2 separate regions of the Homo sapiens genome follow, and region 2 is linked to region 1. The links come from fine-mapping of genetic effects on gene expression. A gene starts in region 1. The other region holds a variant in brackets. All regions are shown on one strand. Distances are from middle to middle. Region 1 holds the start of PEX12 (peroxisomal biogenesis factor 12). Region 2 overlaps AP2B1 (adaptor related protein complex 2 subunit beta 1).

What was found. PIP is the estimated chance that this variant, and not a neighbour inherited with it, causes the effect. A credible set is the group of variants that fine-mapping cannot tell apart.
Region 2: its variant is the best candidate, but not a certain one, in a credible set for the expression of PEX12 in lung (TOPMed, PIP 0.81).

What each region holds. Positions count from the first base shown.
Region 1 is chr17:35,577,508-35,580,427 of GRCh38, reverse strand. PEX12 (peroxisomal biogenesis factor 12) reads left to right here and starts at 1,857. Exons shown (of 3, transcript NM_000286.3): 1 at 1,857-2,532; 2 at 2,837-2,920. The coding sequence starts at 2,407. RefSeq lists an enhancer at 1,778-2,593.
Region 2 is chr17:35,598,886-35,601,805 of GRCh38, reverse strand. The region is part of intron 3 of AP2B1 (adaptor related protein complex 2 subunit beta 1); the gene reads right to left. Among named protein-coding and RNA genes, the nearest start is that of AP2B1, 13 kb to the right of the region's middle. The variant T/C (reference allele first, on the strand shown) is at 1,699.

The sequences.
Region 1 (2,920 bases):
AGTAGCTGGGATTACAGGTATGTGCCACCACACCCAGCTAATTTTTTGTATTTCTAGTACAGACTGGGTTTCTCCATGTTGGTCAGGCTGGTCATGACCTCTTGACCTCAGGTGATCCACCCGCCTCGGCCTCCCAAAGTGCTGGGATTATAGGCGTTCTTATGCCATACGTTTAGTTAACTTTTGGAGTACTTCCATGGGACTATCAATCAAGACATCCTGCCTTCCCCTGGCTAAGAGTGAAAGACAGGGTGGAGAGGGAACTTGAACCAAGAGAGGTCAGTCAAAATTTGTATCACGAGCAGAGTCACAAACAGAAATTGGTGGAAGCTCGTTCACTGCAACAACGTTGCCTGGATAAGAACTTCTAATTCCTGTTAGGCAGTCCCAATAGTATTGTTAAGTTCCTGTTCTTTCAGGGCTGGCTTTACTTATTTTGTGAGCTACTCCATACACTTCTAATAAATTCCGTTTTAGTTTAAATTAGCCTGTTTGTTTCTGTTGCTTGTAACCAAAGATCCCTAAGTGACAAAAATGTTTAATTTCCTGCTTGATTTAGTTGATGCTACCTCTCAACTTTGTATTTTTGCTATTCACTTAAGAAAAGCTTGTACATAACAGTTACTATTAAACAAGCACCTAATATGTATCCAGGTGCTTCATATGGATAAACTATGTCTAGTCTTAAAACTCTGTAAGGTAAAAATCATATATCAATATAATGTCTTTTGGTAGAGTAAAAAACACTTTTTATAACTATAATTAAGGACAATTTGTAAGGTTTTCTCTCCTATTGGAATAACTAAATCCAAACCTTGTTTTTGAGGGTTCTCATTATGCAAACCAATTATTTTTATAACATAAGGGCCTCTAGGGCAGTAAACAATACCTTCTATTCCCAGCTATTTAGCCCAGAGGTGGCACTTCCCAGAGGAAGGGAGGAGAGGTGGAACTCTCATCCAAATTCAATAAGGCTGTGTCAGCCAACTTCAGCGAGACAAAGCTGTACATAACATAAAAGCACTTTACAAACCTTAAGGTAAATCACATTCATTTTGGTATAAAAACGGCATGAAAGGAAACTTTCTGTCAAGTGTCCCCAGTGCATGCTAGTTACAATTCATAAAGCTCCCTCTGCGTTAGTACTGTATTCATATCGCTGGTGGTGACATATACAACTGTGTTCAAGGATGGAGACCATTTTCATCCAGTATAGCAAGTGCATGCAGTTATGCTTGAATATAGCCAAAACCTGGAAGACGTTAAACTACCAGCTTGGATGAAAATTAACCGTCTCAAGTACTGAGGAACAAGCATGAACCTTTCTCAATCCAATCATCTTTCCTTATAATTGGCGGCAATAAATCTAAGGCTCCTATCTCCTGCTATGTCGCTTTAAATCATTTCTGGAAGGCTAAGACATATAAATTAACCACCATCCCTGCCGCACGCGTACAGCAAAGTCCTTTCCACCTCCAGATTCCCTTCCTCCCACCGCCCCTAGCTTCATCGCCTGCAGGAACACAGGGCTCAGCAACGGGCCCGAGCTCTGGCTCCCGGCGCCAGACGTCTGCGCGGTGCCCCAAACAGCTTGTCAAAAAGACCTCGCAGAGAGAGGTTCAGAGCTGTAGCTTTCCAGCGAGGCTACCATGCAGACCCAGCTACGAAAAGTAAACCAAACTAGCCAAAACCAGCCCACAAGGGCCCTCTTCTGTTTCAGCGGGGCGGGAGCGGAAGCTCAGGTGGGTCATAGAGTTCTCTAGTTCTGGTTTCCGGACCGCATTCGGAACTAGAGCGCCTCTCTTCCGCCAGGCATCCCAGAGGTCCTGGTGGTTTCATTTCCGGGTGCGGCTTCTGTCATAAAGCGGAGACCTCCCTTCAAACGTGGCGTCGTGGGTTGTTTGCGCCTCGCCTGGGGTCAGCGAGCAAGGACGGGCGCGGGCGGGGATACTCAAAGCCAACAGCTGGAGTCAGCCCTTGTGTCCCGGGCTCACAGTGGCACGACTGAATCCTCAGAGTCGGCTGGCTTTTGAGCTCTCACGATTGGGGAGGAGGGGGCGTTTCTGGTTCGCAGCTCCAGAGGATTGCGTTCCTTCCCCCATACCTGTCCCCCACAGTCACGCTCTGCCCTGACGTGCAGCATTTGACAAGTTACCCCCTCGCCACATACTACTTCCACCCACGTCCGAGTTAACTTTGTTCTTAACCTTCTTGAGACTACCCTCGGCCTCCAGGTCTTTTTTTCCCAGTTCATTTTTGCCCATAAGATTGAGTTTCGAGTTTCAGATATCATGCAGAAAGTTTACCTTTAAGACTGAGCACCCATCTGATACTCTTCCTCCCGAAAAAGTTCATGCTCACGAGAGAGTTTGTGGGAAAAGTGAAAGCCAGTACACGCAGGAAACTATGGCTGAGCACGGGGCTCACTTCACAGCTGCTTCTGTGGCCGATGACCAGCCATCCATCTTTGAGGTGGTAGCACAGGACAGTTTAATGACAGCAGTGAGACCCGCTCTTCAGCATGTGGTCAAGGTAAGGTATTAATTCTTGGAAAGGTTTTAGGGACAACTGGGTAAAAAACAAACGAATAATTTGTGCTTATTTGGTAGCCTAGCGTTTGAAATAGCCAATTTGCAAATAACTTGTATCCCATGACTTAAGAGTTACTGAGTCTCTGTTATGTGTAGAGACCTGTACTGAATACCCAGCATTTCAGGGTCCAACAGTGACTTATTTAAAACAAATTGTGTAGACTTTAGAGGAAAAGGGGGAATGTAAATAGGTGTAGAACTTGTGTAATGGAATGAATTTCACTTATTGCTTTATTTTGCTTTAGGTTCTTGCAGAATCAAATCCCACCCACTATGGCTTCTTGTGGAGGTGGTTTGATGAAATCTTTACTCTGCTAGATCTTCTGCTC
Region 2 (2,920 bases), 21 kb before region 1:
AACTCGGTCTCAAAAAAAAAAAAAAAAGAGTTATGACAATTTTTACCAATTCGTTTGTACTGATGTTTTCAATCCAGATTTATTCTTTGGCAAAAACAGCCCTTCAGTGACTAGACAGATCACAGATAGGCAACTACCGCCTGTGGGTTAAATCTAGCCCAATGCTGGATTTTTGTACAATCCATGAGCTAAAAGTGGTTTTTATAGATGAACTAAGTGTTCATCTATATGAATCTTGGCCGGGCATGGTGGCTCATGCCTGTAATCCCAACACTTCGGGGGGCCAAGGCAGGCGGATCACTTGGCGTCAGCCAGGAGTGATGGCAGGTGCATATACAGTACCAGCTACTCAGGAGGCTGAGGCAGGAGAATCCCTTGAACCCGGGAGGCAGAGGCTGCAGTGGGCCGAGATTGCGCCACTGCACTCCAGCCTGAGTGATGGAGCAAGACTCCATCTCAAAACAATAAATAAATAAAACAAATCTGATGATGAAAAATACTATGAATCCTAATTACGCAAAATGTTATCATCCCCCAAAAAGAATCCCACTTAATAGTATACCTGTGGTACAAAACATTATACTTAACTATTATTTTATTTTGAATATCCTCAATAAAAAATTTGTGGAAATTTGTCTTCTCTCTTGTTATGTAAGTACCTACCTACCAAACTCAATTTTGCCTCTTTGCCTGCTAAGCAAAGAGTACTTACTATGCCAGCCTGATGTACTTACTATTTTGTCCTTTACAAAAACGTTTGCCAACTCCTTAGATAGATGGTCACAGGACAGCAATTTAAAAACCAAATGTGCTTTATGTGCTAACAAACAAAAGAAAAATAACAAAAATTCACCTCAGAAGAGCAGCACCTGGAGCAAGAGAAGATACAGAGTCATTTCCTACGCTGCCATTTCTATCTGGGCTCCCCGTCTGGTTAGGGAAGCAGCCCTCACCTTTTTGGTCTCGGGATCCCTTCATACTCTTAAAAATTACTGACATCCCAAAGAGTTTTTGTTCATGTGGGTTATATACCTATTGATATTTTACCATGTCAGGAATTAAAACTGAGAAATTTTTAAAAAGTTAATCCATTAAAATAAGAATAAACCCATTTCATAACATTTTAAAGGTAAAATGTACTGTTTTTAAATTAATGAGATGGTGACACTGCTTTTTTATTTTTTTGCAACTCTCTTTAATATCTACTTGAAATAAAAACAGCTAGATTCTCATAAGTTCCTGCATTCAACCTTTTGTAGAATGTTGTTTTGAAATATAAGAAGAAAATCCAGCTTCATACACGTATATAACTCGGAAAAGGAAATAATATTTTAATAGCTTTTTCATATAACTACATATTCCTTATTTTCTTTTTTTTTTTGTTATAACTAGAAATTCTTGATGTTACACTAAAACTAGACAGCCCGGGAACAGTGGCTCATGCCTGTAATCCCAGCAGTTTTGTGAGGCCAAGGCAGGTAGATCATTTGAGGTCAGGAGTTCGAGACCAGCCTGGCCAACATGGTGAAACCCCGTCTCTACTAAAAATACAAAAATTAGCCGGGTGGTAGTGGTGCACGCCTGTAATCCCAGCTACTTGGGAGGCTGAGGCAGGAGAACCGCTTGAGCCTGGGAGGCGGAGGTTGCAGTGAGCCAAGATAACGTCACTACACTCCAGTATGGGTGACAGAGTAAGAC[T/C]CTGTCTCAAAAAAAATAATGATAAATAAATAAAACTAGACAAATGGTTGTTTTCCTCTTTCTGAGTCCACACACTGTAGTTTCTTAAAAGTTAGTTGCAATATAGAATCTGAAGCCGTATCGATAAACTTTTTGTACTTGATTGTATTAAAATCCATTCATTTACATTCTATTTTGTTTTTTTGTTTTTTGATTTTTGAGACAGAGTCTTACTCTGTTGCCTAAGCTGGAGTGCAGTGGCACAATCCTGGCTCACTGCAACCTCCGCCTCCTGAGTTCAAGCAATTCTACTGCCTCAGCCTCTAGAGTAGCTGGGATTACAGGCACATGCCACCATGCCCGGCTAATTTTTTTGTATTTTTTTTTAGTAGAGACAGAATTTCACCATGTTGGCTAGCCTAGTCTCGAACTCCTGCCCTCAAGTGATCCGCCTGCCTCGGCCTCCCAAAATACTGGGATCACAACCGTGAGCCACCACGCCTGGCCTCCACACTTTATTTCGAATAGATCTTTTATCCATGCATAATTTTGTGATATACATATGCTCTGGTCATTTGGAAAAATATTGGTTCACTGAGCTATGCTGACACATTTCATTATAAAACAGCAAATAATCACAATCATTAATTTCACCACCAATCTCCTCAGAAAAGTCTTTAAGCATTAGGAAGCTGTCAAGCTTATGATGGGAGATACAAATTTTCCAAAATTCTAATTTTTTACTTTAAAACCTGAAACGTATCCATTGTCAATTTTTTTCCCTTGAAGTGACAGGTTCACTTTGTTCATTTTTGAATAAAATATCTCCCAAATACCAAAGTCTGATTAAATATAGTTTGTCTGTCAATCATTCTTTCACATAAAAATGGTGTTTGCAGTTCAAACAACTGCACAAGGGTTTTTTCTCAAGTCGACCATTGCACTGCTACGCAGCAGAAGAGATTTATGGGTAATCCCTATTTCATCAAACACAATATTAAAAAGGTTCAAGTTTTAATAAAACAAATTTTTACTGCTCATGAAGGACATTCCTAAGTGAAACTGCTCTTTTTTAGCACATGGTGTTAAGGAATACAATGACTACCATTATGGTTGGCACCACTGCCTTCATTCATGCTGAGGCACCAGCAGTTTTACCCACCACTGCTTTGCACCATCACTGTAAACATCCAAATAGTGAAAAAGGCAAGTAACATCTAAGTATTATTATGAAAACAGCTTT